3 separate regions of the Homo sapiens genome follow, and regions 2 and 3 are each linked to region 1. The links come from fine-mapping of genetic effects on gene expression. A gene starts in region 1. Each other region holds a variant in brackets. All regions are shown on one strand. Distances are from middle to middle.

Region 1 (10,362 bases):
GACCACTTGACAACAATATCTCAGGACTAAAATGGGAGGGATGAATGTCAGGTAATTTTTCCCCTTAACATCTTCCGGAAAAACATCACAAGCAGCAATGCTGAAAGGAAGCACTACTTTCCCCATCCTCATAAATTCTACCTGTTACTATTAAGAATAACTAGCAATAATCTCCAGACCAGGCTGTACTAAGAAAACTTAACACAAGAGTGGCATCAGAATGCATGGAAAGACAAGGGTAGACAGCGCAGGGACCAATACTGGATCATGCCTGGACCACGGCATACAACTATTTGAAAAAAGAAATCACAAAACCAGTAACTGACCCATAATCTATCCTTTGGGAGGCAATATAAGCAAAAAATAAATAAAAAGAGGCCGGTTTTTGGCATGAAACAGTAGCCTCAGGCTTGTAAACCAGACAGTCCTAGGTTCAAACTGCTGACACTTTGCCAGGTGTATGTATGATGGTTGGGACAAAATACTTTTATGGGGTTCAACTTTCTATTTTATATTCTCATATATGCTACCACTGACATTCTGGTAAGTGCCCATATCTACTCTGTCACACCCAAAACATCCCCAGTCCCTACCAGTGAGGCAAACACCCATGGAGCTGCTCTCTAGCCACTCTTTCCATCTACCTCAATATATCCCAAACCAAACATAGCACTTTTGCATGTATCTGCTCCTTTTCCTGAACTTGCTGTCTCAGTAACCAACACTTGCCGAAACCATAAACTTGGGCCACCTTTTGTCCAAACTTCCCATGTACCCTCAGTCACCAAGATATCCTCAATAGCTCTCAAATCCCTCCTCTACTCTTCAACCCCACTGACTTACCCAGGCCCTCCTCACTTATGAGAACAGTATAAGTGGTCTCAGGACATCCCTTCTGCCTCTCCCTGTATTCTATCTTCCATGCTACTTACGAGAGTAACCTTCCCAAAATACAAATGTAATCACGAAACTCTTCCATGTAAACATGCTAAGACCGTCCCTTTCCCAAAAGCTTTCAGGATAAAGTTCAAATCGCTCAATTTTGCACCCAAATCCCTTAATTATTTGGCTCCTAACCCTGATACTTTATCCCTTATCACTCTCACACCTTCTACCTAGATGTATCAAACAACGTTTTCTATTCTTATGCCTGGAATGCACCCCACATCCTCTCTTGGACAACTCCAATTCACCTTTCAGCTCAAATTCCACCTCTGGAATTTGAAGGAAGGATGCCTTCTGGCCCTGCTCACTGATTTGATGTAAGCGCCTCTCCTTTGGCACCAGGTCCATATCTTTATTACAACACTTTGAACCCCGGCACTCCTTTATTTTTCTGACTCACCTCTTAGTTCCTTAAGGACATGGACTGTATCTTATTCAAGTTTGTATCCTCATTCTTTGTTATTCAATAAACACTTATTAAATATTTTATGGGTCTTTTGTTGCACTGGTACTGGCAACATAAATAGGAGTCTTTGAGTCAAATGGAGTTTGTATCCTGATTTCATCATTAATAAGCTATGTAATCATAGGCAAATTATTGTAAAGTGGGCTATCTTACTCATTCAACTGCTGTAAGACTAAAATTAGATGTATGTAAAGGACTTGGCACATTACCTGGCACATAGTAAGTTCTCAATAAAGGCAAGTGTTATATACACAAATTTTTTAAAATACATATTTCTCAAAGAGCTTACAACCTAGCAGAGGCTCCAATATTAAAATAGGCACTCTTTAAATGAACACTGTATAGGCACACTAATATATCCTTGACCCTAGGTAAACAATGCTTCCTGTCCTACGCTACGCCATTAATACTGTGCGTTTTGCTGTCTAGGGTTTCTTTTGCCCTCTATGCACTCCCACATTTAACAGAGAAAGTATCGGCTTTAGGCAAACACACCAATCATGTTATTGCAAACCTATAGCCACACCTAACACAACAGCATAAGTCAAAGGCAATATAACCAAATGTTAAAATGCACCATCTAGCAATAGCAAATCACGGGATTACTAACCACACTGCCTGAATGAGGCCTGGAACTGTTTACAGGCCCAGGAAAAAGCCTTGGGGACATTTCATCATTCAGTGGCCTTGAAATAACTTCCTCCTCCCTAATCCCTGAAAATGGTTATTAACCAAAATTAGTAATGTGCAAGACATCATCCTAAGTACTTTAGGTCTATCCTCACGGCGCTCCTACCATGCAGGTATAACTGTATCCCAAAAAAAGAAAGTGAGGCAGAGAGGAGTTATAATAGATAACCCACCAAGGCCACACAGTGAAGTGGCAGAACCCAGAAGACACTCTTGGCAATCTTCTCTTTAGTCTACATTCTTTTTGTTTTGTTTCGCTTTGGTTTGGTTTTTGGGTTTTTTTGTTTGTTTGTGTTTTGAACGGAGTCTCACTCTGTCGCCCAGGCTGGAGTGCAGTGGTGTGATCCCGGCTCACTGCAACCTCCGCCTCCCGGGTTCAAGCGATTCTCCTGCCTCAGCCTCCCGAGTAGCTGGGACTACAGGCGCGTGCTACCAAGACTGGCTAATTTTTTGTATTTTTAGTAGAGACGGGGTTTCACCGTGTTAGCCAGGATAGTCTTGATCTCCTGACCTCGTGATCCGCCCGCCTCGGAAGCCCGAAGTGCTGGGATTACAGGCGTGAGCCACCGTGCCCGGCCCTACATTCTTAACTACTTACTGTACCATACCGCTTTCCCTCTCTGACATGAAGATTAAATGACAGCACTCTAAACACTTACTGGCACAACCTGGGCTAGGAACCAAGGACTCCACAAAGAAGTTTAAAGTGGTATGCAAATATAATGTTGCAAGAATTTTCATTATTTAGTGAGTTCCTATGAGGAGTAATGAACTATATAGGGATACTAATAATTGTATATTCTATCAGATTAGGTAGGAGTTTCCTACTTTGAATTACGAAATGATTCTTCTCATCTTAGTAATTTTAAACTGGGCTTAATAAACCTAATGGAAACAAAGACTTCCATTTTTCGGTAAGCTCTTACCCTAGATATAGTATCACAAGTAAAGCTATAAAAAAGATGGGGCCTCACTCCATGAAATATTGGCTGTTTCAGGTTTAGCCCAAAAACATAAAAAGGAGAATAGTAGTAGCAAAGAATAAATGCATTAACTCATCGGCCCACAGGTTTCCCCTGAAATACACATCAGCACGGCTGGAGAGATTGCAAATTAGGGAATGAAAACATAAAAATCAAAAAGGATCAGCTAACTCCAGGGGGAAAAAAATTTCCCCTAGCAGAAGGTTATATCTTGTGGTCACACTACAGACCAGGTCATCCTTGCAGCAGGCATTCAAGCTTGTTCTGAGTTGAATGTAAGGATGCAAGCTCCATCCAACTCAACCCCAAAAATCCGAGTTCAACCTTAACATTTTCAAGAAACATTAGCCCTAGATGTAATTTCGGATACAAAACCAAAAAACAAAAACCTTCTCACCCAAAGGTCGGCCACCATGAAGCCCATGGGCCCAGAGGGAGTACCCGGTAGTTTCAGGCCGCTCGCTTATCTTCCTTTTAAAGAGACCTTGAGGCACCAGTCCTGCCTCCAAACGAAATCCTATTCGGCGCTACCCTCTCTGGAGGAGCCCATTCTTACCCTGCACTAACAACTGCACGGGACTTAACGACTCCACCACCCACCAACTCCTCCAAAAGGGAGAGACACAGCCAAAGCATCCCACTGGGGCGTTCTCTTTCGCACACGGACGCTCCCGCACTCCCTGGCCCTTTCTGGAGCGACGCTCCCCGACTGCCATCTCCGCGATGAAGACAGCCTGTGCCCCACTGCCTGGGACGAGGGTTCCAGCCCCGGCTACTTCACTACTTAGACCTGTCACTTTACTCTCTGCACCTATACTCTCTGGACCTCCGGATCCTCATTTGTTCAAACCTAACTGCCTGTCTGGTTCGTGTTAAACGAGAAAGCACCCGCCCCAGCCCCGCAGCGGGCCCGCCCCAACCGCCTGCTGACTGGCACCCTAGGGGAATGCGGCGGAGAGTGGAGCCGGTGGAAACGCAGGGCAACGCCGCGGGGGCTTGTGGGGCTGGCCCCACGGGGCGGGCTCTTGCCGCCCCCCGCGTATCCCCGCAGCTTGCCGCTCACCCCGCCGCCGCTGACCGCGCCGATGCCGTCGAACTCCCGGCCCAGCCCGTCGGAGTCGTCGAGCACGTACGCGCCGCCGGGCGCCAGCAGCGCACACAGCAGCAAGGGCACCGCGGCGCGGCCCGCCGAACCCGCGGCCGCAGTCATAGCTTTCGCTCGGCGTTGCCAGGAAGCCGAGAGTAGCCACTCAGCCATTGTGTGGGTCACATGACTCCGGCGCCCAGGGAGGCGGGTCCCGTCGCCGCCACGATAGATACGGGCAGGAGGCCGCTGATGCTGACGCCGCCGCCGCCATTTTGAGTGCGGGTCAAGGGCCTCTGACGCAGCTGGCGGAGTGTTGAGAAAAGAAGCAGCGAGCTTTTTCTTATCGCTCGCGTGTCTGTGGTCAGCTACTGGATTTCACATGTACTTACTGCTGGCTTCTCTTCCGGCGTCACCTGGTGGAGCACTTTAACGCAGGGAAGGTGGATTCCAAGGTCCGCCAAAGGAAGAGGGCCATGAGTGGCCCTACCATGGCTCTTCCCCAGCATCTCAGGGAGTATCTACCTCGTGCGAGGACCAGGCTTGGACACCAGGTCCCGATTCCATTGTCATCTTGGTGGAATCACTTTGCTTTTGGAGCCTGAGTTTTCCCTTATGTGAGATGAGGCGAGAAGAGCAGCAGAGTGAGGGACTGAGAGAAAAGTTAATAAGCACTCAGTACATTTGAATGCATTCCACAAGTGGCAAATAGCTGAGAAGGTTCTCCAGTCTGGTAACTACCCCGGCATATTCAAAGCTTTTAGCCTTGAAGGAGTTAATAATATACCACCTCAAAATATGCTGCTGTGGCATATTGACTATTTTAAATTAAAGGCACTTAAAAACAGCAGGTGCAAGATCACTGTCATGGATATTATGTGTCTTAAAAGGAGGAGATGAAATTCCCATGTGAAAGATGTCTTCCCTATAAAATAACATTGTTATCTTCAAGGACAGAAAGTTGAAGTCGAGGGAAATCTGTCCAAACAAAATTTGTTAATCCCTATCTTTCTAGTCGCTTCTTTACCCCAAGCCCCTTCGCCTTATCATGTTTCACAACTACTATTTTTTGTCCATTTCACTCTATAAGCAATTGGCTCTTAACTGCTGCTTTAGGTCTTTTTTTTTTTTAATGAGGGCCCCCGTGCTATGTAAAATAAACATTTGTGTGGTTGTCTCCTGTCAGTCTATTAATATCTTAAATCAATTTAATACTAGGGCCATGCTGGGACCCTACAGGGACGAAGGTGAAATTTTGCCTCCCCTACAATTTTATAAACTATCTTCCACTGTCAGTTGAAGTGATTCCAGACAGGTAACTCTAAATTGGTAGGAAAGTTGTGAATTGCCCTGAATTTCTGCCACATCCAGCACTGTCCTGAGATTTCTGATTTCCTTGTTATTGAAGTAAATTAAAGAGACTCTGAAGAGCTGCAGAGAAAGATTTTCTGATCCCCAAATTTCTCTTAGCAGAAGTATGGAACTGGTTATCATTGCCTACACAAGCCCCTGAGATACCACAATGGCAAGGAAAAGACCCAGAGACTTTAGGACCTGTGGGATTTGTCTGCAGAACCCTATTTGGAATCTGATTATTTTGCCCCTTAACCACAAACCTAAATCTAAGTTTCAAGAACTCAATTATACTTGAAGGTCAAAGCTCTGGGCAATCCAATAAATATGCACATTAAGAACCCGATATCCCTGGGTTCTTAATGTACATTAGATATGTTTGTTCTTTCTTTCTTTTTGAATTGACTCTACGTCTATCCTGGTTTACTAAGGACAGTCACAACTTTTGTCTAAACATAATTACTGATAATGCTCCTTTCACCCTCAGTAGTCTTCTGGCTTGGATCAGTTAAATAGTCCCCTGTGTATGAACCACTTATTTTCTTTGGTTTCTTCTTTCCCCAGTACAACACGAATCTGAACTCTCTGCCTTGCCACTGCAACCAGTTTATGATGCAAGTCAGTAATTTTCAGTTCTGTGGATTTACTGTTACAGAATTCACTCTGATCCATTTGTTCTAACACAGTATTTTAAGCATGAGCTGGAGCTCCTGTGGATACAAGCCACAGTAACCATTCCATCAAGTGAATGTTAAGCTTCTCTTACCAGCTCTTAACAAGCGCATAAGACCCACTTAATACCGTGACTAGATGGGAAATACCAAGGTGATGACAGAGGAAACTACCTTACACATAAAACTAGGAAGTTGCATGACGATGTATGAATACCCAGCATACACCATCCTGTAGTACGTCATTGTGAAACGGGTCAGTGGTCAGTGGTCTCGTTGTCTGAGGTGTTATCCAAGCTTGTTGTCTCACAACCAAGAGAATTAAGGAGTGTGGACACCAGAGTGAGGTTGAAGAGAAAGTTTATTATATGAAAGAAGAAAGCTTTCTTTCTTTGCCATTTTGCCACTTTTACAGTTGAATCCAAAAGCTTTTATAAGAAACTCCTCTCATCTCTGTAGCTGTTTGTGTAACTTACTTGTAAAGCTATCTGTGCAGCTCCCCTTATCTGTGCAGCTGTGGGTATGTCTTGGGTAAGGATAAAGTTCAGCTTCTCTTGTTTGTGTAACTGTGGGTTCTAGGTAATCACCCTCTCCACCCCCATGCAAGTTCCCACAGAGCCCACCATGTATGTGCCTGAAAAGGGGAAGAAACTTTTTCCTGGGAACCTGCTAATCACACAAAGAACAAAAGGCTTCTATGTTGGGCCTTCCTTTCTTATCAGGGCAGCTGTTGCCTGAGTTTTCCCCAGGCCACTCTATGTGTGCCTGTAGCTTGATTTTTCAGGCTGTCTTTCTGTTTAAAAGAATTTTACCAAAGACCAACTTTAGCTGTCTGCCCAACTAAGTTTTCCCTTTTCTCGTCCCTCAATTGCACCTTGTAGTTGGAATGCACGCCACAAATATTTGAGCAATGTGTGAAGTCTACAAAAGAGGAAGCATAAACTCTAATGGAAAAGGTAGCCTCACTTCCAGGAAGTCCCAGTAGTTCCTATTAGTTCAGTTACCAAAGAAATTGCTTACCAGATAAATATTTTTTGTTTCTAATTTCTGATCTATATTCATGAGAGCAGACATGAGGTAAGAAAGTTTCTAATAAAAGGCCAATAAATACATGCTGACAGAAATCCTTGGAGTGCTGGGCACGGCACTCAAATGTGCTCAAGATGTGAGATAAAGAAAAATGACAGTTACCCCACGAGTGATCATATGCTTAGCTTCCCTTGCGTCTGTGGATCAGGGTCAGTGAGATAAGACGGTAAGAAAGGAAGGTCCCAGTTTTCAGATTTTAAATGAGTTTAAAAAGTAATGACAGTGTTTCTCTCTCTGTCTTTTTAATCTGAAACACTTCAAGAATTTGCATGTCATCCTTGCTCAGAGGCCACACTGATCTCTGTAACATTCCAGTGTTTGTAAATGTGCTGCCAAAGGAAACACGATGATTTTTCTCTTAAATAACAGGTGTTTCTAAGTATCACAACTATACTTCAGCCACCCCAAATCTCTCCTTTTTCTAAATAAAATAATGTGATCAAAATCAAATAGTCTCTTGAGAAGGATCAGAGATCTTGCCTTTTAATGAAAATTTATTGATAAACTCTAATAGCAGTCTGGATTTTTTTTTTTATTTCCCCAAGACTATCATAAAACGGTATGATAGCAGTCTGTTGTCTCACTTCAGGAAAAGGCTTTACTTTTATAAATCAGTCCACCTCCCCTTCAGTCTACCATTGATGGGCATTTAGGTTGATTCCATGTTTTTGCTATTAGGCTGTCAGAAATTCCAGGGCAGAGGCCAAGTTTATTTCTTCTTTGTATGTCTTAAGCACAGTGCCCAAACTGTGCTAAGTACTCAATAAATATTAGTTGAATTGAACTAAAAGACAAATCACTGAATGGTCACATAAGGGGATACGAATAAAGAATTATTTACAAAAGGAGTTGGAAACGTTTCTTAAAGTAGGAATCCCCTGGGACATAAGAGTGTGGAGTGTTTTCTTGAACTGTCCTGTAACATCTGCTATATTTTTTACCTTTTATTTTAGGTTCAGGGTGCATGTGCAGGTTTGTTACAAAGGTAAATTGCATGTCCTAGGGTTGATGTACAGATTATTTCATTACCCAGGTAATAAGCATAGTACTCAATAGGTAGTTTTTTGATCCTTCCCCATCCCCCATCCTCCACCCTTAAGTCGGCCCCAGTGCCTGTTGTTTTGTTGTTGTTTGTGTCCATATGTACTCGATGTTCAGCTCCGTCTTATAAGTGAGAATATGCAGTATTTGGTTTTCTATTCCTGTGTTAGTCTTCTTAGGGTAATGGCCTCCAGCTCCATTCATGTTGCTACAAAGAACATGATCTCATTCTTTTTTTTTTTTTTTTTTTTTTTTTTGAGACAGAGTCTTGCTCTGTCATCCAGGCTAGAGTGCAGTGGTGCGATCTCGGCTCACTGCAATCTCTGCCTCCCAGGTTCAAGCGATTCTCCTGACTCAGCCTCCTGAGTAGCTGGGATTACAGGGTGTGCCACCACACCTGGCTAATTTTTGTATTTTTAATAGAGACGGGGTTTCACCATGTTGGTCAGGCTGGTCTCGAACTCCTGACCTCGTGATCTGCCCGCCTCGGCTTTCCAAAGTGCTGGGATTACAGGCCTGAGCCACAGCACCTGGCCTGTCATTCTTTTTTATAGCTGCATGGTATTCCAGGTTGTATATGTAACACATTTTCTTTATCCATTAATAGACCACTGATGGAGATTTAGGTTGATTCCATGGCTTTGCTATTGCAAATAGTGCTGAAATGACCATCCACTTGCATGTGTCTTTATGGGAGAATGACTTATATTCCTTTCAGTATATATCCAACATCTGCCATTTGTCTGGTCTTTCAACTCTGGACGTGTTTCTTGATGGCAACTGTTAGTTATACTGCCCTACTGAGTGACTTCTCTCTAAAATATGTTATAAGGCTCTATTCATTCAAGATTTTATATAAACAAAATGAAAATAAGTCAAAGGACAGAATCCACCTAATGAAATAAATTATAAATTGCTTACTGAACATTTTCTTAAGTATAACTACAAATAAAAACTTCTATAGCAAAGAGCAGTGTAGTATAGTAGTTAGAATACTGGCTCTGGAGCCCCAGGTCTCCTGGCTTCAAATCTTTCTCCTATTGCTTAGCAGCAGTGTAATTTTGGTTAAGTTATGTAACTTCTTTGGGCTTCAGTTTACCCATCCATAAAATAGAGATAATGATGGCAATACATTAATGTGAACATTGGACAAGCTAATATTTTTATAGCACTTAGAAGAGTGACCCACACATCCTATGTGTTATATAAGTGCTTATTATATAAATAATAACATAAATGACATACCTATATAACTATCGTACAACTTTTGAGTTTACTGCTTTCCCCACAATTAATTCTGCAAAAACAGATTATTCCTGTCTTTGTATTGGTCTCAGTTTTTCTTTTTGCTGGGTTGTTGTCCACAGTCATCCAAATCTATGTTGTGTGTGGCTGATTCCTCATAGTGAGAGTCTTGGTGTGAAAGAGAATTCTGCCTCCTTCAGAAGTTAAGGAGCCAGATCCTCTCTCTTACTGTCCTTATCAGTACAGGCTCTGACAATGACCAGGCTTTCTCAATCAGTTTCTTGAACCTGCAAATTTGACCTTGGAAGAGTAACTAGATGTATGCACAGTTGAGAAATCCCACAAGAGCCATATCAGAGTCCAGAGGAGGCAGCTGCATAGAGGCTCCATCAGAGGTGGCCTCAGATACCTAAAGTAGTGGGATCAAGCAGTGCCATTCTCACCTGAATGCTCAGACAGAGTGACCTGGCTATCTTTTTGGTCCTTGGACTCTAGCCCATTTTACAAGTCTTATTCTGAAGTTTCTGCATCAATTTGTTCCATATCCTCATTTCTTTCTTTCTAAGTCATTCATTTTCTGCTCAGGTAACCCACAGATGGTTTCTGTTACCTGCAGCAAGGAACCCTGATGGACACACCCGGTTATAATCCAAAGCTGATGTGATAATTGTAAAGAATTATCAGGCTCCATGTCTGCATTTCTCCACTGTAAAAACTGCCTTCACCACCTGTAGTCCTTTTGCTGGTAATTGTTACAGCATAGATTTGCTCAAATAAAGGAATTCCAAGAAATTG
Region 2 (10,362 bases), 290 kb before region 1:
GTTTCCTAGGGACAGGAGTCAAAGGTCAGAGTGAAGCATAAATCCTCAGGGCTCAGACATCTAGCAATCAAATCTGGGATTTGTGCCACCTATGGGTGAGCCATGTGGGTTTGGGGAGGTTGGTCACCCAAAAGCAACTGTTTATTTATTGAATGGCTCTCCCCACCAGAATAAAAATGCCTATTAAATAGGCACTTTGTTGTTTTTTCCTGTCCAGAGCAAAGCGTAGCCCAGAGTTGGTATTTAATAAGTATACACTGTCTGAATGCAGACTTCTTTTCTGCCACTTTTCTCTTAAGGTAATTATGTCAAATGCTTTTGTTTCCCTGCTCTGCATTGCGCCCATCCCACCGTCAATCATACACCATCATTATTATGATCCCCATCAAGAGTTTCTGGGGTTTTCAGAGTTTTCATAACAGAAAGACTTTCATGATTAGTCACATATCCTGTGAAACGCATGGTTATAATTATAAAAATATCCATAATATCCAAAACTTACTGACAGCTTATGTTAAACCAGGCATTGTGTAAATAGCTAAATAGGTAATGCTCACCACAAAAAATCCCCATTTTACAGATGATATAATTCAGGCTTACAATGAGAGCGCATAAATAACTTGTCTGGGGTCACACAGAAAAGAGTAAGGAATTATACCTAAAGCGAATTGATTTTAGACTCAATTTTGACAATTAAACTACAGAGCTTGACACAATCACAATGAGAATGTAAATCTTTTATACCAAATCCTTTGTTCTTTCCAAGACCTCCCCTTGAAAAATATGTTATGCTCTAAATCCATGGGTTGAGACTGCAGAATTTAGTACGATTTCCCTGGCTCTGAAACCAAAGGCATTTTGTCTCTTCACAAAGTGAGTGGACATAGAAAGTGCCTATAAAACAGCTGAGGGCTTGTTTTCAAGCTGTATTGAAAACCTTAGGACTGGGATGGTTCCCAGGCAGAGCATGTGAGCAGACAATCTCTTCAGTGGGCAGGTACACAGTGGCAGCTGCAGTGATTCCTGAGGAGGAGTCAGATGTCACAGCCCTCTTCAGTTAGGTTATCCCAGGCCTGCCAGCTCTGTGTACCACTGCACTTTAGACAGACTGTGACTGTTTGCAGACATGAGGCTTAGGGAAGCCACACACACCAGGCACTCCTATCAACTTCTCCATGGTAAGGCCAGAGAATAACCACCCCTAGGCATCCTGTCACCTCAGCAGGGCCGAGAACAAGTCCCTGTACAGTCACTGCAGTCCTCACTGCATAGCACTCAGAGGCAGACAAGAGAATCTCTGACCATGATTAATGCCCCCACAGTTCCCATCTGAAGAAGGAGCTGTCAGCAATTCAGATCTCCATTTCAGAAGAAATAGTATTCTGTTGTACTAGTTAGGGGACCATTTCAGCTGCTGAAACAGAAGCTAAGGGAAGAATGACTTGAATAAGAGAGCTTATTTTTCTCCAAGGTAAGAGTTCATACAGAGCAGTCAGGACTGCAGACTGCCCCACAGTGTCAAGAAACTAGGCATCTCCATCTGGTACTTTGATACCTCCAGCATGCAGATTCTAACTTGTGGTCCATAGTGGCTGCTCCAGTGCCTTCCATCATGTTTATATTCCAGCCAGCAGAAACGGAGAGGAAGGGAAGTTGAAGAGGAGGACATGTTTCTTCCTTTTAAGACTTCAGCAAACAATTAGCACTCAGACCTCCCACTCACACACCATTGGGCAGAATTTAGTCAAGCAAACAAGTGTCATGGGAGGCTAGAAAATGTAGTCTCTAGCTGGGAAGCCAAACAGTTGGGTAAATCATATGACCAAAAGAAGGAAAAATGGATATTAGAGCATGTGCTTCCCATTTTTACTGACAAAATATTGATACATACCCTTCCTCTTAGGCATGGAATACCCTCCCATCATCCCCAAGAGAGATAACTTAAAGTTCTGCCCAATTTCTGCAGGCAGCTCAAATTTAGTAACTCTGGGAGTTGCACGGTTCTCTCCATTAGGTCTGATATGGATGCCCAGAGTCTGAGCTATCTACAAGCCATTGCTCTAGAGCAACATGGTTGAGTAGAGTCAGGGCAACTGCAGTGAAAACCCCCGTTCAGGAAACAGGTGAATGGAAAGGATGGCAGTTCCTTGCCCATGGCCATTTGCACATCATGCTGGGCAGTGAAACAAATTCTTTGGGTAACCTGTCTGGCAGCTCTCTGGATTTTCTAGGAGAAACGCCCTTGTCTGTTATCTTTCATGGACTCACATACAATGAAAACTGAACAGTGTTTCTTTTTCAGGGTTGCACAGGTTTGCTGTCTGTTTCCTAGTGGTGCATATAGGAACGTCTGGGGTTACTTTAGGGGTTGAAAAATCAGACTTTTGCTGGCTGGGCTTGCAATTTCTTTGGAAAAACTATTTTCTCAAAAACATAAAGATGTATTTGCTTCCAAACACTTCCCAGTTTAAGCAACCACAACCAAAATTCTCCTTTAGACCTATCATAGTAAATGAAATTTCTTGTGTTTATGTACTTTATTTATTGGCCTTCATGCTCTACCCAACTCCCTCTACCATCCTCTTTATGGTGATTTTGAGGACATCTGAAACAAAAGCCCTGGATGGGAGCACAATGTTTATAATCTGATTTTGCAGTAGGAATGGCTCCCATTATCTAGCCAGAAGCACTGAAGAAGGTACCTGAGAAAGGCTTGGGGCCACTGAAACAGCTGCTGCTGTTGCTACTTCCTTATCACTTGAGTTCATCTCTTTGGTAGTCCTGCAAATAACAGGAACAATCATCCAACACCAACTACCACCCTGTTTTTCCAACCAGTTCTGCTACAGTCACATACTCTGGTGGCATAATGTGGTCTTCTGAGATGCTGCAGGTGACGGTTTTACTAAACGTTTTGCCCTGCCATGCCCACCTACCACGTTGTCAACTGTGAGGTAAATATGCTCAATTTTATGTCTTAGTGTGGTAGCACCCCCTGTCTAAATCCCAAATTCTCTATTAGCTGCTCTAGAAAAAGCTAAAATAATAGTGGGTTAAACAAAATCATTAATTCTCTTTCTGGGACGTTCTGGGCTTACGTAGACTAGGGCTGTTATAGCAGCCCTCTGCCAATCAGGCACCCAGGCTCCTTCTGCCCAGCTGCTGCGCCTCCTCAATGAGTCACTCCCACACTGTGGTGTAATGTTCCTGCTTTATTTGCTGATGCATTCTAATCACCAGAAAGGGGGAAGGTCATGCAGGGCACATGACCTTAATTTGGGTGTATAACATGCAGTTGGCATGCCTCACTTCTATCACACCCCATTAAGCCAGAAGTAAGCCATATAGCCACCCACAGGTTTGAGGAATTCTAGAAAATAAGGAGTCTTCAGCTAGATAAGCATAGACTCTGGAATTCTATTACAAAAAAACAAATGGGAAAAGGAATACTAGGGACAATCTGTGGTCTTCAGAGGATTAATTGACTCCAAAACTGGACTGGAGAAAGTTTTAAAAAGCTTTTCATTCAACTCTCCAGCTATAAGCATGAGAGCTGAGAAAAGAGGGCAGAACAAGATGGAGTTGGTAAATTCAGTATTTGTAATTTACGGTCTTTTTCCTCTATGGAAGCAGTTTGGAAATAAGTCAAACTCCACAAAGAGAAAGCTCAAAATCCACAGTCAAGGTAGGACAAAATTTCTTATCAACACATTGATTCTCTAACGCTAACAAATCTTGAAGGTAGAAATGTCAATTCTGGGATAATGACAGGCTGAAGGTATAGTCAGTATGTTTAAAAAAAAAATCCCTGAGAGACAGGGTAAATTCTGCTTCAATGAAAGTGAGCGTATCTTTATTAGAGTTGACAGAGATCATTAAAAAGTGAAAGCAGGAACCCGATATATTGATGACACCTCTAGAAGTTGGCCTTACAACCACAAGCTGTATTCAGCGGAGTATGTTTTTTCCTGTCTCATGCAATGAAATCCAATCTCACAGAAGTTTTTATTTGTTCAGAGTGATAGATAAGCCTCCTAAAGTATGGTTTAAATCAATATTCTATTCCCCAAGTTAACTGAAACTGCACATTCATTTAATGAATAGATATACATGCAACTTTATAAACACACAGCCATAATACAAAAAAAATGGGGAGGGTTACCCAAAACAGAACTTTGCTTTGTAGGATGCTCTTTCTTGAGTTTCTAATAATGAAATAAATAACATATTTCACATTGCCTAATGAAATATCTTATATTGTCTGTTAGTAGGCTGGCTTTATCAGCTAGCATGAAAACTGGAATCTGAGGAGATTAAAAAGAAATTGAATCAAATGATAATAGTTAACATTTATTAAGTGTTAATAGGTGTATTAGTCTGTTCTCACGCAGCTAATAAAGACATACCTGAGACTGGGTAATTTATAAAGGGAAGGGGTTTAATTCACTCACAGTTCAGCATGGCTGGGGAG[G/GC]CCTCATGAAACTTACAATCATGGCAGAAGGGGAAGCAAAGTCCTTCTTCACATGGCAGCAGGGGAGAGAAGAATCAGTGCCCAGCAAAGGGGATAGCTCCTTATAAAACCATCCAACCTCATGAGAACTAACTCATTATCAGGAGAACAGGATGGGAGAAACCACCCCCATGATTCGATTATCTCCACCTGGTCCCTCCCACAACATGCGGGAATTAAGGAAACTACAATTCAAGATGAGATTTGAGTGGGAACACAGCCAAGCTATACCAGTAGGATTATTAAGTGTTAATAGGTTAACCAGCACTTAAAAGCTGCCCATTTCTGTTCATACATATATATACACACACACACATACATATATGTGTGTTCATACATATATGTGTGTGTATGTATATATGTGTGTGTATATATGTATGTACGTGTATGTGTGTGTATATATCTGTATACACACACATGTTTTACAACTCAGTTGATTCTCCCAATAATCTTAATAGTGAGATGCCATTGTTTTTCCCATATACAAATTAAAAAAAAAAAAAAAGAGCCTCAGAGAGGGTAAGAAACTTGCCCAAGGTAATACATCTATTAAGCGATGAGCCCAGGCTTCAGATCTAACCCATTAATCAAGAGATCTTGAATGCTTTACAACCCACCAACTAGAATCCGGATTTTTTTTTCAGAATTTTATGCTTAGTTATTTCTACTGGTAGTAAATTAGAATGATTAAGGGTAATTAGGCATTTTGAGGCCTTCTATGTGCTAGTTACTGCAAAGAATCTCCTAGCCTTGGTGAGTCCCCTGTATTCACCCTTCCTCGGTAGTTCAAGTACATCTTTCCTAAAACTGCACCCCTGTACAAAATGATAATCTTTAAATATATTGCCTCAAGGCACCTACAAACTCTAATCTTATACAAATAATCCACATCTCAAAAACCCCTCAATACAGTCATCAATGATTATCAGTTATGACTACTATAATTCCCTAAGACTTCCACTGTAATTGATTGACTTGAAATGTTCTAATACACCTCTTATGGGGGAGAAGTTGAGGAAACCAAGTACTAAATAAATTCCACAAATAGTCATACTGTTGTTTTCTAAAATCTAAATTACTGAATCATATCCAAACCTCAAATGAACACAAATTTGCAGACAAAAGATGTAATCATAATAGACAAGAGCAGGAGTCATTATAGACAAGAGCAGGAGTCAGCAAATTTTTTGAGTAAAAGCCAGAGGGCATATATTTTAGGCCTCTCAGGCCATGCCGTCTCAGTAGCAAGCACTCAACTCTGCCATTGTAGCACGAAAGTAGCATACAAAACCATAAAATGATTGGGCATAACCATATCCTCATAAAACTTATCTATAAAAAATAGATATCAGATCAGATTTGGCCCCTAGGCCAGTAGTCTGTAGACGGCTGAACAAGAGATTCACTAGAGTTCTGTAAAGGCACAAATATCATACAATCTTTAATTTGGGGAATTAGCTTATGAATGGCATTAGGATGTTCCTTTATTTTTTTCTGGTACAGTCCTAACTTTCAATATTATTTCCTTTTTTTTCTTTGTGTTCATGACTGTCAGAAAAAGAATCCCGTTTTATAGTTCAGAAAGTGAATTTTTCACACCATCAGTAAGTGATATGACACAGAAGAAATTGTTGCTGGAACATGCACTCTATCCCAAAAAGAGCCTCTGCTATGTGCAATGGCTACCAAAGATCCTACTTGGTTAGTTTGCTGCCAAGTCCCATATCCTGCCAAGAGGTTATAAGAGTATTGAACTTACATAAACATGACATATCCATTAGAATTTGTTTTTGGCTAATAGGAAGAGAACCAATTGAGTAAATTGAGTGCCACTGCCTATTGGGCATGGATTTCCTCATCAAGAACACAAGATGAACGCAAGCCATGATTCCAGGCAGAAACAAAAGGAAAAGCAAGGAGTGACAAGAGATTCACTCTTAGCTAATTGAGCTGAAGGTCCACACAATGACTTGAAGTTCACACAATGACTTCTACTTACAATTCATAGTCTCCCTTTAAGTGAATGATACTGGGAAATGCTATCCTTGAGATGTGCACACTACATTGTCAAATAAAATTAAAAGAATATTCTAACAGAAGATAGAGCATAGTCTGGGGAGAGGCAACCAGCCATCTCTGCCACCTAAGTTTCAAAGGAAGATTACTTCTTATCTTCTTCTTTGTTCTCGTTCTACTTATTCTCAGAAGCTAAAGTCAATTGAGTAATATGAAACTCCTCTTTCTACTTAGCATTGTTACACACAACTCTATTTCTGACTTTTCATACTCTTTTTCTCTCTTACAAATTACAAGTGAAAACTCCCGCCCAGAGGATGTGAACAAGCTGGAGTTGAAGGTAGAGCTCATTTACTTTCGAGAAAAGTCTTCTTTGAGTCTTCATTCCCCATTCCCCACACTTCCCTTCTGAGATTCATTCTTTGACCTGTCTGTCTGCTCTATGCCATGAAAAGCGACTTTCACGCATTGCATAATCTAGCCTTTGTTCAATGGATTCTGACTGGGTTTGACCAAGGGGATACATAAGCAGAAGATTGGAGACCAACAGACAAGAGAAGTCATACATAGATACTGCTTGTCCGCACCTTCCCTACTCAAGTGAGGTTCTAGTGGTAGCTATATCTATGACATCAGCTTCTGTGAGCAGCCAGCTTCCTTAGACCTCATGTCTTCTGATGCCCCTTTAGACCTGGGGTGATGAGAGCTTCCCGCTATTTCTGGGCACTGGATGCCTCAATATCCCTTGAAGATTCCTAAACCCTGCCCTCCCCACTATAAACATTATCTTTATTAGCAAGTCTCTTCAGAACTGTCCATTTTCTGCCAGAACATTGACTCTGATACATCTTGCAACTGACTTGTGAATCCATCCTCCCCATTAGGCCAGAAGATAACAAAACTTGAGATTCATTCAACATGCTCAAGGAATGCTGGAAACTTTAGAGATCACTGGAAATGGAAGTAAGACTCCTGTATGCACAGTGAATCAATACGAGCCTATGGCCATCCTGCTCCCTGCAACACTAACACCTGGCATGCTTTACTCATTCTTCCAGGCCAAGTCCAACATCACCTCATCTCTGAAGCCTTGCTCACTATCCATTCCCACCCTTAGGTGGCCTTTTCTGTGCCTTAAAATAATTTATGCATATTACATTATAATTATCTATTGACATATTTAGTTCCTGCCTCTATGTGATTCTGACAGGCAGGAACCCTACCCTTCAGTCCTCTGTCCACAGTGCTAACCCACACTCTAACACACTCCTCTCTGGGAACATGAAGAAGCAGTATCACAGTGAGTTGGAAAAGTTAACTAAAAAAACCACCGCCACCCTAAAAGAGTTTTTTTTTTTTTTTTTTTTTTTTTTTTTTTGAGACGGAGTCTCACTCTGTGCCCAGGTTGGAGCACAGTGGCACAATCTCAGCTCGCTGCAAGCTCAACCCCCTAGGTTCACGCCATTCTCCCACCTCAGCCTCCCGAGTAGCTGGGACTACAGGCACCCACCACCATGCCTGGCTAATTTTGTTTTTGTATTTTTAGTAGAGATGGGGTTTCACCGTGTTAGCCAGGATGGTCTCAATCTTCTGACCTTGTGATCAGCCCGCCTCGGCCTCCCAAAGTGCTGGGATTACAGGCATGAGCCCCCGCGCCCGGCCTGAAAAAGCCATTTTTAAGAATGTTTGCTGAATTGAACAACAATAAGATTTGGAATCTGAGCCATGAGAAGAATGGTGGAACAGGTAATAGAAATTAGGATGTCTGGAAGGCAGCAGATAATAAGCAAGGGGATGTGTGTTCAGTCGATTGTGAATAACGTCGGGGAGGTATAACTGTGCAGGAGGAATCCAGAACCTACAGACTGACATTCAGTGGGACAGGACTAGAGGTAATGACTTGGGAGTCACCCAGATGGAGGCAGTTAGTTGAAGACATGCACCAGGGAAATGTTTCCAAGGACAGGAGTGAAGAGCGGGGATCAACTCTTCAGTCACCCGCCTTGATACCTGGGTCAGTGTTCTGTTTAATGCAGGGTTAAATCCACACTCCTCATCAACATCAGCTCCATTAGATAAAAGACCAAGCTAATTTGCTAACACTATTAAATACATAAAGCCATCAGAAGTAATTTAATGCTTATCAGATATGCTTACTCCCTAATAAACCCTTACCTACCCCTTATTTCAGCCTAATGAGAAAAATGGATTCAGAAAATGAATATATAATGAAGAATCCTTCCATTTATTTTCATGAAAGAATTAGAAGGGGGTTTAGACTGAAAGGGGTGGATTGGCATTTAAGGGGGCATTTAGCTGCTTCATTGACTCCTATTTCATTTCGGAGCGTGTGACGCACGGCTAAGGTTTGTCAACCTTTCATTAGCCTGGGCAATTCATCATAGTTAAATATCATTTAAGTTACAAATGCATTCCCACCATTTAGCATGCATTGAATTTCCTTTAATTTACAAAAGAAATCACCAAACATCAGACAAATAAAGGAGCCAGTTTATCCTCTTCCATGAGGAAGAGCCCTGTGGAAGGACAGATCCTTGTGGGGCCACCAAACATATGCCCCAGGGAGCGTTTGCCATCACGAGAAATGGAGGAATGATTTCACCACTCTTCCCCCTGCGTGCTTTCCCTCAATCGATGCAAATCTCTCTCCTCTATGATTACCCCTCTGCCTTCCCCCACCTGCTGTTTAGGTGGCCCCAAAGAACCTGGGGCTTCTTAGAAGAGATGTTGGCAATCCCCTGGTAAGTCCCAAGGCCTCTGCTTTTCCAATGCAAACCCTGATGGGATCCTTGTGTCTGCCTCCAGGCCAACTCTGCTTCTTCCAGCCTTCTAGGGTTACCTGATCCTGGAACGTTTAGTTAAAAATGACAAGCTCCGATGTCACCAGGCAATCTGCTCTATGTCCTCTTATTAATTCTGCTGGTTCCCTGGAAATGCTCACTCTGAGTTTCGGTCCTCAGAGAAATCAGTCTTATTTGGGTTCTCCTCCTAAAGATGTCTTGTCTTCCTTATATCAAGCTCATTGTGGATCGTGGCTTCTGTCCCAATTGCCAAAGAACCACTAACGCAAAACTGCTCATGTATTCATTCGTGCGCTGAATACAAATCAGGTTACCTAGCAGGTTCCTGACTCTGTGCTAGGCATGAGGATACAAGGTCAAGCGGCATAGCCATAGTCTATACTCTCACAAAGAGCACAGTGGAATGGCAGGAGGTAGCCATGAAGCAAGCATGCACAATAAGACAATCATGTCATTACAAATGATGGTGGGAGCTAAGGAAGAAAAGGCAAGACAGTGTAACACCAGAGACTTCTCTTAAGCCGTGTAGCTAAAGGAGAGCCTCCCTGGAGATCTGACATTTAGGTTGAGATGTGAAGACTAAGCAGGAACCACCCCAGCAAAGTGTGTGGAGGGGGAGAAGAGTGGGAGGGTGTCTGGGGGATGTGGGAGGAGGATACTGGGATGGGAAGAGTGTGAGAATTGGAGAATGGCCCAAGTGACTGAAGCATGATGAGAAAGAGGGTGGAGGATGTGGTCAGGAAGGACTGCAAGCTGGGCAGGACTTGAGCTGATCTTATTTTTAAGATCCATCTGGTGACTTAGAAGATCATGAATTGGAGTGGGTGGGGTGCAGTGAAAACCGTGTGTGTCACTGACTTTTACATGAGGTTTGGCTTCTCATAGGATGATGACATCACTCCAAGGAACAACAAACTATTGAAAGTGGATTCTTATGCCACAAAGTTGAAAAGTTCCTTGATCTCCCTGAGGAACACACCACTCCCATTTCCAGCTAAGCATTCCCCAGGTCAG
Region 3 (10,362 bases), 29 kb after region 1:
TAGCTTGTGATGTTAGTAACCCATGTTAAGTGGTAGCAAAATCTCTGGTTAAACTATTTCCTGCTATATCCCGAGACTCAGATAATGTCCACCAAGGGTCTGGAATCAAGACTTTGGAAGGAAAAATTCAAAATGTTGGTGGTTTTTGGCTTCCTCTTATAGCTTTCAATAAACTGCCACAAAAGACAGATAAAATAATACAATTTTTTGAGAGCTTTTCTGTTAAATTTTTCAAATCCAGAAAACACTGCTGCCCTGTGGGGCCTACACACAGAAACAGTGTGTTTTATGCTTCAGGAAAAGGGTAAACTTTAGCTAGAAAAAGCAAGTCAGCATTGTTTGTGAGTCACTAGTGAGTGGAGTCTCAAAAGCCAGACACTATGGGGAAATAAAAGAACTTTTTAAACCTCTTAGGCTCCCATCTCATATCAAGAAGTAGGCCTGGCTGACTTAAAATTGGAGTTTTCTCTATGCCAGGGGGTAGTGAGAACCAATCATGATGTAAACGAAGCTTCTATTATTCAGGGAAATGAAAAAGCCTGGGCTCCTGACCGCAGTGGTCTAAGGGGAGGAGGCAAAGAAGAGTTAAAATGAGGATGTCGGAGACAAATGTTGATCCTCATGGCCTGAGATCAATAGAATTTCCAGAGTTGCCAGGATGGTCAATGCCAATAGTCTGCTTTTCCTGAAGATAGCTGCAAGCCTCTGGGGAAAACCCCATATTCAGCCTTATGCATGCACTTTACTGTGGTACAAAAATAGAGACTGGCATACAGTTGTGCAGGTTGAGTGTTGCACAAGAAATCCATGTCTAAGAGGGCACCATTCATTTAACAGACATTGAAGATTTGCACATTTATTATGTCCATTTTAAAGCATATGGCAACAAGATGCTTGCTCTAATAAAAGCAGCACGACAACTTTCCAACAACTGGAAGGAAGGTATCATAAGGAAGACACATCTTACTTTTACAGAATGCCCCATGAGCAGCATAGCCCTGCCTCTGCCCTGCTACCATAAGGTCACGTAAGCCTCTCCAACCCCGGAACCACCATGGGAGGAGCTAAGGTAAGTGGAGTATATCTGAAAGACTGAATGTTTAGCCCAGAGTAGCTGAGCTAACCTAAAAAGACAGTTTAAGCAAGAAAACGTGGTGATATCATTAATTCGCAAGTAAAATAATTTTTTGCACTGATACCCAGTAGGTTGGTAAATCAGAAAGAAGAATAAGAATAAGGAGTAGAAGAAGAAGAAGAAGAAACAGTCAGAGAAAATAAGCTACTGTTTTAGGTGCACATGCAGTTGAGTTGTTGTGTGACCACTGTCTCTCAGATGTCCCAGCTTTGACAGGAGGTGGCCTCCCTGGAAAAGAGAAGAAAACATAACTTTTAAGAAAGGATGAGTTCATGTCCTTTGCAGGGACATAGATGAAGCTGGAAACCATCATTCTCAGCAAACTAACACAAGAACAGAAAACCAAACACCACATGTTCTCACCCATAAGTGGGAGTTGAACAATGAGAACACATGGACACAGGGAGGGGAACATTACATACCGGGGCCTGTCGGGGGTTGGAGGGCTAGTGGAGGGATAGCATTAGGAGAAATACCTAATGTAGATGACGGTTTGATGGTGCAGCAAACCACCATGGCACATGTATACCTCTGTAACAAACCTGCACGTTCTGCACATGTACCCCAGAACTTAAAATATAATAATAATTTAAAAAATGATACTATCCACCTATGATCTAGAATCCAGGTTGAATATAGGTCCAATCACCTAGTGCAATGGTTCTCAAACTTTAATGTTTATAAGAATTAACTAGGAATCTTAGTTTAAAAGATTCTTATTCAATACATCTGAAGTGGGGCCTGAGATTCTACATTTCTAAGAAATTCTCAGGTAATGCCAGTGCTGCTGGGCCCTGGGTGTGGGTGTGGAGTTACATAATTTTAGAGTCTAGAGAAGAGGTTCTCAAACTTTAGTATGGATGAGAATCACCTGGAGAGCTTGTTAAGACAGAGCGCTCAGACTGTAGTCTACTCTTGTGTCATCACTGAGTCTTGGCCAATCAAAGGTGACCAACTCTTCAAACTGTGTTCAAATGATGCAAACATCAAGTAGCAACCCATCTGGTTGTTTCTGTACCTCACACCATTTTCTGTATGTCACTTTCTTTCTTCTATCTATAAATCTTCCACCATTTGGCTGTGCTGGAGTCCCTGAGCCTACTCTGGCTCAGGAGTCTGCTCAATTTGCAAATTGTTCTTTGCTCAATCCCTCATCCCCAGAGATTCTGATTCAGCAGGCCTAGGGTGGGGCCTGAGAATTTGTGTTTTTGACAAGTTCCCTGATAACACTGATGTGAGTGGGACACACTTTGAGAACTACTGCTCTCAAATAGAGTGCAGCCCTTTCCTAAGTACCTCCTATTAATTGCCATCTACCAGAAAAAAAGGTACAGTCCCACCCAGTGAAGAGATGGATCCCTCCCACCCCCAAGTTCAGGCCCAACCTGATGTTTGCTGAGACAGAAATTCTCAAGCTAAGGTCTAGGCTCAAAGACTGCAGCTAATCAGGTTTCTGGCTGTGGTCTCTAACCTGCAGAATTGAGAAGAAGCAAACTGAAAGCAGCCAGCTTTTTAAGGGATCTATGTGATCTTTCACCCCTGTCTGATCTCATCACCCAGTGGTGCAGGCCACATTTGGTTCTTATGCCATGCCTTGGCCAATGGTGTTCATATCCATCTCTTCCTCCAAGTTGAAAGCTATTTAAGAACAGAAATCATGTTTAATTCACGTCTTAATTCCCTCTGAGCCTATCCTCAGCTCCCTTCCTAGAAACTAGCAGAGTTTTACATATTCTAGATGTAACAGGAATCCTATTTAGAAGACATTAAATTGTTACATTTTCCATTCCCATATAAGTGATTGTTCTCCCAAAGGCTTTCCATCATTAAAGCCCAGTTTATTGCCCAGGAAAAAGGAGGAAAGTATCAAAATGCCACAATGCATGAAGGAAGATATTACTTGGTGATGCCCTACTGGACAGTGTTAAATCAAGTTTAGCTTAAAGCTGCCTCCTTGTGTATTTTAAGTTCAGCCTAAAGGTTTCTGTGTACATCATGAACTATAACCTAAATGGAGTTGCACTCAGACTGTAGTCTACTCTTGTGTCATCACTGAGTCTTGGACAATCAAAGGTGACCAACTGTTCAAACTGTGTTCAAATGATGCAAACATCAAGTAGCAACCCATCTGGTTGTTTCTGTACCTCACACTAGTTTCTGTATGTCACTTTCTTTCTTCTATCTATAAATCTTCCACCATGTGTCTGCACTGGAGTCCCTGAGCCTACTGTGGCTCAGGAGGCTGCTCAATTTGCAAATTGTTCTTTGCTCAATTAAACTCTGTTAAATTTAATTTGGCTAAAGTTTTTCTTTTAACAACAAAAAGATGAAGTAGATATACCTTCTGATTCTACGAAGAATCCATGAGGTACAGAAAGCGAGAGCAAGAGATAGGACATATTTCCGGATTCATATTAAGAGAGATCAGCAAGGAAACCCAGAAGCAGAGCGGCAGAGGGGACTCATGCCTTGTTTGGGGTTCAGGGAGGAGATCACCTTTTAGGGCACCCCTGCATTAGTAAAATTGCAACAGAACAGAAAAATCGACATGGTGGTATACCATGGTGGTGATACTTAAGAAGAAAAGATAACTGGGAATAGGTCCTCTGCTGTGGGATAGGGAAGGAATCCAAACATTGTCACTTGCTCCCAGAGGAAGAAGAGTATGGAAGAGAGATGAGGGCCAGTGGGCCTCCCATGGATCCCAGTGGGAGGGAAACTTGACCCCATGGCAGAGGCTGCTGGGTGGAGAACCAAGGCCCAGGGTGGATGGAGGAGGCAGCTGAGACCATGGGGAGCTGCTGCTCTAGCAAGAACCAAGACAAGGGAGTATAACTGGAGGGGACACAGTAGACCCCCAGCAGACCACCAGATCACCAATTATACTGACTGTGGTCTCAGAAGCTTCTGCCAGGGGGATGCCTAATGGACAGACAGGACATCATCTCAAAGGCCAGAGGGGACCAGAAGACAGTATGAGGAGCAGCAGGTTGACATCCTCACAGCAAAGAGGACAGGTAAGCTTTCCTCTCCATCCAGTTGCCATCTTATGGAAGACTACATCTTGTGAGAGGCACCTCTTGTGGAAAGTGCCTTCTAGTGAGTGGCTCTCCAAGA[C/T]GAGAAACAGTACTAAGAGGGGCATGGAACTTAAACTTGATTGAGTCTTTATCCAGAAGACATAAACAAGTCTTTAAAAGACTATTTAAGCCAGCAGACATGGAAATATCTTCTATGCACAAATTTAGGGTTTTTATTTCCCCACCAATGGTGGGAATGAGGTTTTCAGGGCGCAATGATGATAGTTTCTTTCCCACATCTAAATGTAGTGTGCAAATATGTCACCTTTCAACTCATCAAATGCTTGGCAAATTATGCAGGATTGTGCTATTACATTGATTTTACATAAGCCTAGTTTGTTTAAGCTAAATTTTCATCAAATAAAAAACAATAGCAGAAAATAGAGCTACTGTGAACAGCCCAGAAACAGTGCCTTGGTCATTGGATAGTGGAACAATGAATGGATGAATAATGAGGAAATTAAGTACTTTTCAAAATTTTCCTTCATCTTTACTTTAAAACTCATTTGTTTTTCTGGCATCCTTTGATGAAAATAATTTTCATCAAATGGATGCCAGAGGAAAGTATCAAAAAGCCACAGTGCATGAAGGAAGATATTACTTGGTGGAAACTTGGAGGGCTTGGAAGGGTTTTTTGAGTCCCTTTCAAGGAGGATAGACATAAAGATGCAATGCTAACAATCGCAATAACTATCACCACATTTCACTTCTGGTAAACATTGAATATTTCTTTGGACATTTGGTGTGCTGATTAGATTTTAAGAGAGGTATTATGAAAATTATATAGTGTATTGGGTTAATTGGACTGAAGTGGGAAGATGGTATGAGCTCTCCTGGGAGTTATCAATAGGGCTGACCAGGGCTGGGTAGGGCCCTTATTTGTAATGATGTCTGTCCTTTATTGGGTGGACAGCAGTGCTGCAGTGAACGTGCTAGGAACAGAGAATGAGCTCACTTTGAGGCATAACTGTTCTTTCAGTTCTAGCTGACCTGGAAGATTGGCTACTGTTGATCCTTGTCCATGTTTAGCTCTAGAAAGGCATTTGAAGAACATCCAGTACAAAACCCTCATTTTATAGGTGAGGGATCTAAGCCCAATTCCAAGTCTCCCAGTTCATAAATTTTTTCTTTACTGTAGATTTTTCTGGATAAAGGTGACAACAGATCACACACACACACACACACACACACACACACAAAGATTATTGGTCCAGGGGAGAAAAGTGCAGGGACACTTTCAGGTATGGCTGAATTCAAATGCTCAACCTCTGTGGCCAGGAGGACATTTTCACCATCTCTCAGTTCCACCTTTTGCTATTTTATTTTGGCTTTTATATGATGTCAAAGATGGTTAACAGCATCTCCAGGCCCAGGTTCCACAGATTAGAAAATCCAGCGGGAAGAGAGCCTCTTTCTTGGTATCTCTGGAAAATGTAAAGGTTCCCCTGCCCTTGTTCCTTCCCATCTTTAAACTGATCACTGTGGTTAGGGGTGTATAGTTTTCTCATAAGCCAGGGCAGGGCCCCATGCCTGCCCTGGAGAGTAGGGTCGGTCCCACCATAATAACAGAGACTGTAAGGAGAAGAGAGGATCGTTTCTCAAGGGAAAATCAGGATGCTGTTACCAAACAAAGGAGAGAAAAGAGTCTGTTTCTATGACTACATCTTTCTGGGCTGTGTGGTCCAAACACACCTGTGACACCAGACATGTCCCCTACATTATTTTCCATTGAAAACGATGTTTATTTCCTTTTATACATGGTGAGAAATTGAGTTTCTTTGCATAGAGAATAGACTCCTTCAGAAATATTCATTCTGGAAGGTAATGTCAGGAAGGATCCTGGCAGGCAATGGAGAGATCACTCAAATTCAGGTATTCTGAGGAAAGTTTAGTAAAGAGATATTTACAAAGGATGGGCAGGGTACAAGGAAGCCACAAGGATGATGCGTGAACTGGGGATAAGAACATCTGGGCACCCTGAGGCCCCTGGCTCTGAGAGGGCAAGCAGAGGGGGTGGTTACCAAAGCTGGAGGCACAGAAGTCTGTCTGCAGACCCCCAGGCATAGCCAGCCTATGGCCAGGCATTAAAATGAGAACTAGGGAAAGAAACAAAAATCCATACCTGCTTCTCCTCCCTCCCTCCAACTTGCTGCAGGAATTCCCTATTGAATGAACCACCAGGAAGCCAGTGAGAAATCTCTTTGTTGTAGGTCCTAAGATCAGCCTCCCAGGGCACAACGGAAGAAGGACAAAAAGTGGGAGCAGAGAAACAAACAGGAAGTCAGTTTCTTATCTATTTTTACACTCTATTCATGGGCTCATTCAGGGAAATACCCATAAGATGTCTAAACACATGCCCTGGTCTGATTTCCAGTGGCATTGACTGCTAAACATGTATGTTAAAAATGGCCTGTGTAAACATCAAAATACATGAGACGGTGAACATATCTAACAGCAGTATCAGTGTGGTCCCTTGAGGCTTCCTCTTGATTTGGAGGCATGAGGTTTGTTTGAACTTTTGTTCTTTCATTTACAGGCTACGTGACCTTTAACAAATGAGATAACCTCTCAGAGACTGTGTCCTTGTCTTTAATAGGAGGATATTTCCCCTGCCCACCTAATGGTATCTGTTATTCAGTGCAAATGAAATATTGGATATAAAAGTATTTGAGAGTGATAAAGTACTAATGTTATATTGATCTTTTCAACCTTAAAATATGAGCATAAGAAATACAGATTAATATTTTTATGGGTATGATTTTTTGCAATGTTTATTTCAGAGTTCTACGTGGGGAAAAGAAAGAGAGATCAGACTGTTACTGTGTCTATGTAGAAAGAAGTAGACATAAGAGACTCCATTTTGTTCTGTACTAAGAGAAATTCTTCTGCCTTGAGATGCTGTTAATCTGTAACCCTAGCCCCAACCCTGTGTTTGCAGAGACATGTGCTGTGTTGACTCAAGGTTTAATGGATTTAGGGCTGTGCAGAATGTGCTTTGTTAAACAAGTGCTTGAAGGCAGTATGCTTGGTAAAAGTCATCGCCATTCTCTAATCTTGAGTACCCAGGGACACGATACACTGCGGAAGGCTGCAGGGACCTCTGCCCAGGAAAGCCAGGTATTGTCCAAGGTTTCTCCCCATGTGATAGCCTGAGATATGGCCTTGTGGGAAGGGAAAGACCTGACCGTCCCCCAGCCAGACACCCGTAAAGGGTCTGTGCTGAGGAGGATTAGTGAAAGAGGAAGGCCTCTTTGCAGTTGAGATAAGAGGAAGGCATCTGTCTCCTGCTTATCCCTGGGAATGAAATGTCTCAATGTCAAACCCGATTATACGTTCTATTTACTGAGATAGGAGGAAACCGCCTTATGGCTGGAGGTGAGATATGCTGGCGGCAATACTGCTCTTTAATGCACCGAGATGTTTGTGTACATGCACATCAAGGCACAGCACCTTTCCTTAAACTTATTTATGACACAGAGACCTTTGCTCACATGTTTTCCTGCTGACCCTCTCCCCACTGTTACCCTATTGTCCTGCCACATCCCCCTCTCCGAGATGGTAGAGATAGTGATCAATTAATACTGAGGAAACTCAAGAGACCAGGGCTGGCGCCCGTCCTCCGTATGCTGAGTGCCGGTCCCCTGGGCCCACTGTTCTTTCTCCATACTTTATCTCTGTGTCTTATTTCTTTTCTCAGTCTCTTGTCCCACCTGACGAAAAACACCCACAGGTGTGGAGGGGCTGGTCCCCTTCAGTTCTAAAGCCCACTTGGCTCATTCCACATGTGGCAGTATTTTTTTACCATGTGAACACCAAAATGAATTCGTGGCAAATGCACCTCCCGTTTATTGCAGGCTTGCATGAAGGAAATGATTTCCTATGATTCTGCTTACTGCTTAAAAAAATTAATCAAGTTTTCTGCCTGACAAGTAAGTAACTGTGTTTATTTTCTGTTCATGACTAGGCAAAAGCACATAACATCCCTATGTGTCCAGTGAGTTATGAAAGTTCTTTAAAAGCAGTGCATTAGCCATGGATCTTCCTGCTATCTCTCCCCTGCAGTTTGCTGAGAATGTTTTCCATAATAGAACCAGGCTTATCACAATTTATTCCTGCCTTACTGACTACTAGGTCATTGCCTAGAGTTCTGAACCCCGGGTTGGAAGCTGTTAAAATTTAATAAAAACTACTTTAGAGAAAATGGTCACTCTCCCTTCATCCTCTCTCACCTCCCTCTGGCTCCTTGACCCCCATCCCTCCCTGAAGATGCTGGTCGCTAAGGCTCTTTTAATAGACTTCCTTATTGTCCCAGGTTTCTGGGAATTCATCAGTGATAGCTGCCATGGGTATGTTGAGAGGATACTATATGCTGAGAACTCCACATCTGATATTTTACTTAATTTCCCCACAATATTATGAAGTAGATGTTATTTTCCCCATTGTACAATAAGAGATGGAAAGCTAGAGAGGCTAAAAGCAGAACAAGAATTTGAACCCAAATGCCTGTGACTGTAACCACCATACATATAGCCTACCTGTTTCCATGTTGTTCTAGCAGGATCCTTGTTTTCTTCCTTCTTACAGTAAAATCTGACTGATCACTGTTGAGTAACGGATCTTAATTAGGTCGAGATGCGGAAGGAGTTTGCTCCTGTAATTTCAGGAGGTCTTTGCATATACCTATTATTGCAAATAGATTTCGCTTTATTGGAAAAAGGCTATCAGTATTCCCTGGGGACTCTATTTTTACAGCTGAGACTGCTGCTCTCTATCAGTCACTATGAAGTAGAAATTCTGATTATGATATCACATAAGATTCAAGGCCACTAGTGATAAATGTTCAAGAGGAGGTGTGTTCAGCTTTGTGATACACTATTGTGATAAAAATATGGCACAGGATTTTAAAAATATGAAAATGTAAAAGGAATACAAATATGATAAATGATTATAAGTCTATGTATGGAATTTAATCTATTTTTCCTAAATGCTGACTGTAAGCGGTTTAGCCCAGTGATATAAACTGTGCCTGAGAAAGGTCCCAGTCAATTTCATGCTGTTCATGTGCCATTTATTTTTACTTTTTAAGTACATTGGGAAAATACATAAGAAAAAATGTACATTCATCTTTTTAATGATACTATAAAAGATGGTGAACAAGTTAATCGGAAGAAAAGAAAAACAATTCATCTAGACATTCTTGCAATGAATTTTTGCCAAATGCTTAATTTTTACTAGATGCTAGGAGAATTGGGAAGCCTTAAGTCTGACACAGGATCCAGAGACAAAAATTACAAAGTAGTGAGTGCTATGGTAAGAGTTAAGTAAGAAGGTTGGATAAGATGTCCACTACTAGCTCAATCTTGAAAGCGTCCAGGACACTTGCCTCTGAGACCTAAACGACTGAGTGGGCATTGATCAAGAGTGGGAGGTTGTTTCAGGGTCAGCACATGCAAAGGACAGGCTCCATTTTAGGAAAATGAAAGTAGTTCAGTGTTATTGAAGCTGATGGTGAGGGAGGAAGTGGCAGAAGATAAAGGCTGGAAAGAAACAAGTCAATAAGAAGCCACAAAAAAGTTGTAAGTAGATGAATGACATGATCCAATTTGTGCTTTAGGAAGATTACTTTTGTCTCAGTGTCCAATATAGGTGGAGGGAGGCAAAATGAGAAGCAGAGAGTTATTTGATGGTGGAAAGAGAGAGCTGTTCAAACAAACAGGCAAGATTCAGTGGAGACCTGAACTAGGCAGGTGGCATCTTGGGTTGCAAGAAATGGACAGGTACAAAAGATATTTAGAAGGACAAGAAGGTATTTTAGTTGGATGACGTACATTTCAAAGGAACAAGGAAGAAGAATGGTCTGGGAATAGTATTGGTGAGCCAGGAGTCTTCATTTGAGTGGGCTGCAGGGAAAGTTGTGTCCTCAGAAGATGCCACATTTCAGTTATGGTACAATGGGAGGGAACATTCACTGTGGCAGTGGAATCACCAGAGGGCCACAAGTGGATCAGATTGGGAAGTGGGATAATATTCCAGCCTGAATTAGATTGTACAATCCCAGGGAGCAGGAATGAGGAAGGAAAGGGAGTAGAATAGAGAAAAAGGGGGAGTAATATGAGGATGCATTATAGGTCTAACTGCTTCCAGGTATGA

Direction of the effects. Positions count from the first base shown, and alleles are read on the strand shown. Sizes are in standard deviations (SD) of each study's normalised expression. Not every link is listed here.
In carriers of allele G in region 2, the expression in gastroesophageal junction of the gene that starts at base 4,360 in region 1 tends to be higher than with GC alone (moderate effect, 0.59 SD a copy in GTEx).

What was found. PIP is the estimated chance that this variant, and not a neighbour inherited with it, causes the effect.
Region 2: its variant is the best candidate, but not a certain one, in a credible set for the expression of GALC in gastroesophageal junction (GTEx, PIP 0.77).
Region 3: its variant is the best candidate, but not a certain one, in a credible set for the expression of GALC in whole blood (TOPMed, PIP 0.52).

What each region holds. Positions count from the first base shown.
Region 1 is chr14:87,988,823-87,999,184 of GRCh38, forward strand. GALC (galactosylceramidase) reads right to left here and starts at 4,360. Exons shown (of 17, transcript NM_000153.4): 1 at 4,148-4,360. The coding sequence starts at 4,342. It also overlaps the pseudogene RNU6-835P. RefSeq lists a silencer at 4,028-4,217 and enhancers at 4,173-4,673, 4,368-4,697.
Region 2 is chr14:87,695,512-87,705,873 of GRCh38, forward strand. No RefSeq gene overlaps it. Among named protein-coding and RNA genes, the nearest start is that of LINC02330, 45 kb to the left of the region's middle. The variant G/GC (reference allele first, on the strand shown) is at 4,472.
Region 3 is chr14:88,017,341-88,027,702 of GRCh38, forward strand. It overlaps LINC01147 (long intergenic non-protein coding RNA 1147), which reads right to left and starts at 8,972. Exons shown (of 3, transcript NR_110121.1): 1 at 8,748-8,972; 2 at 6,335-6,436; 3 at 1,265-1,363. HISLA (HIF1A stabilizing long noncoding RNA) reads left to right here and starts at 7,210. Exons shown (of 4, transcript NR_046094.1): 1 at 7,210-7,329; 2 at 8,067-8,141. The variant C/T (reference allele first, on the strand shown) is at 4,253.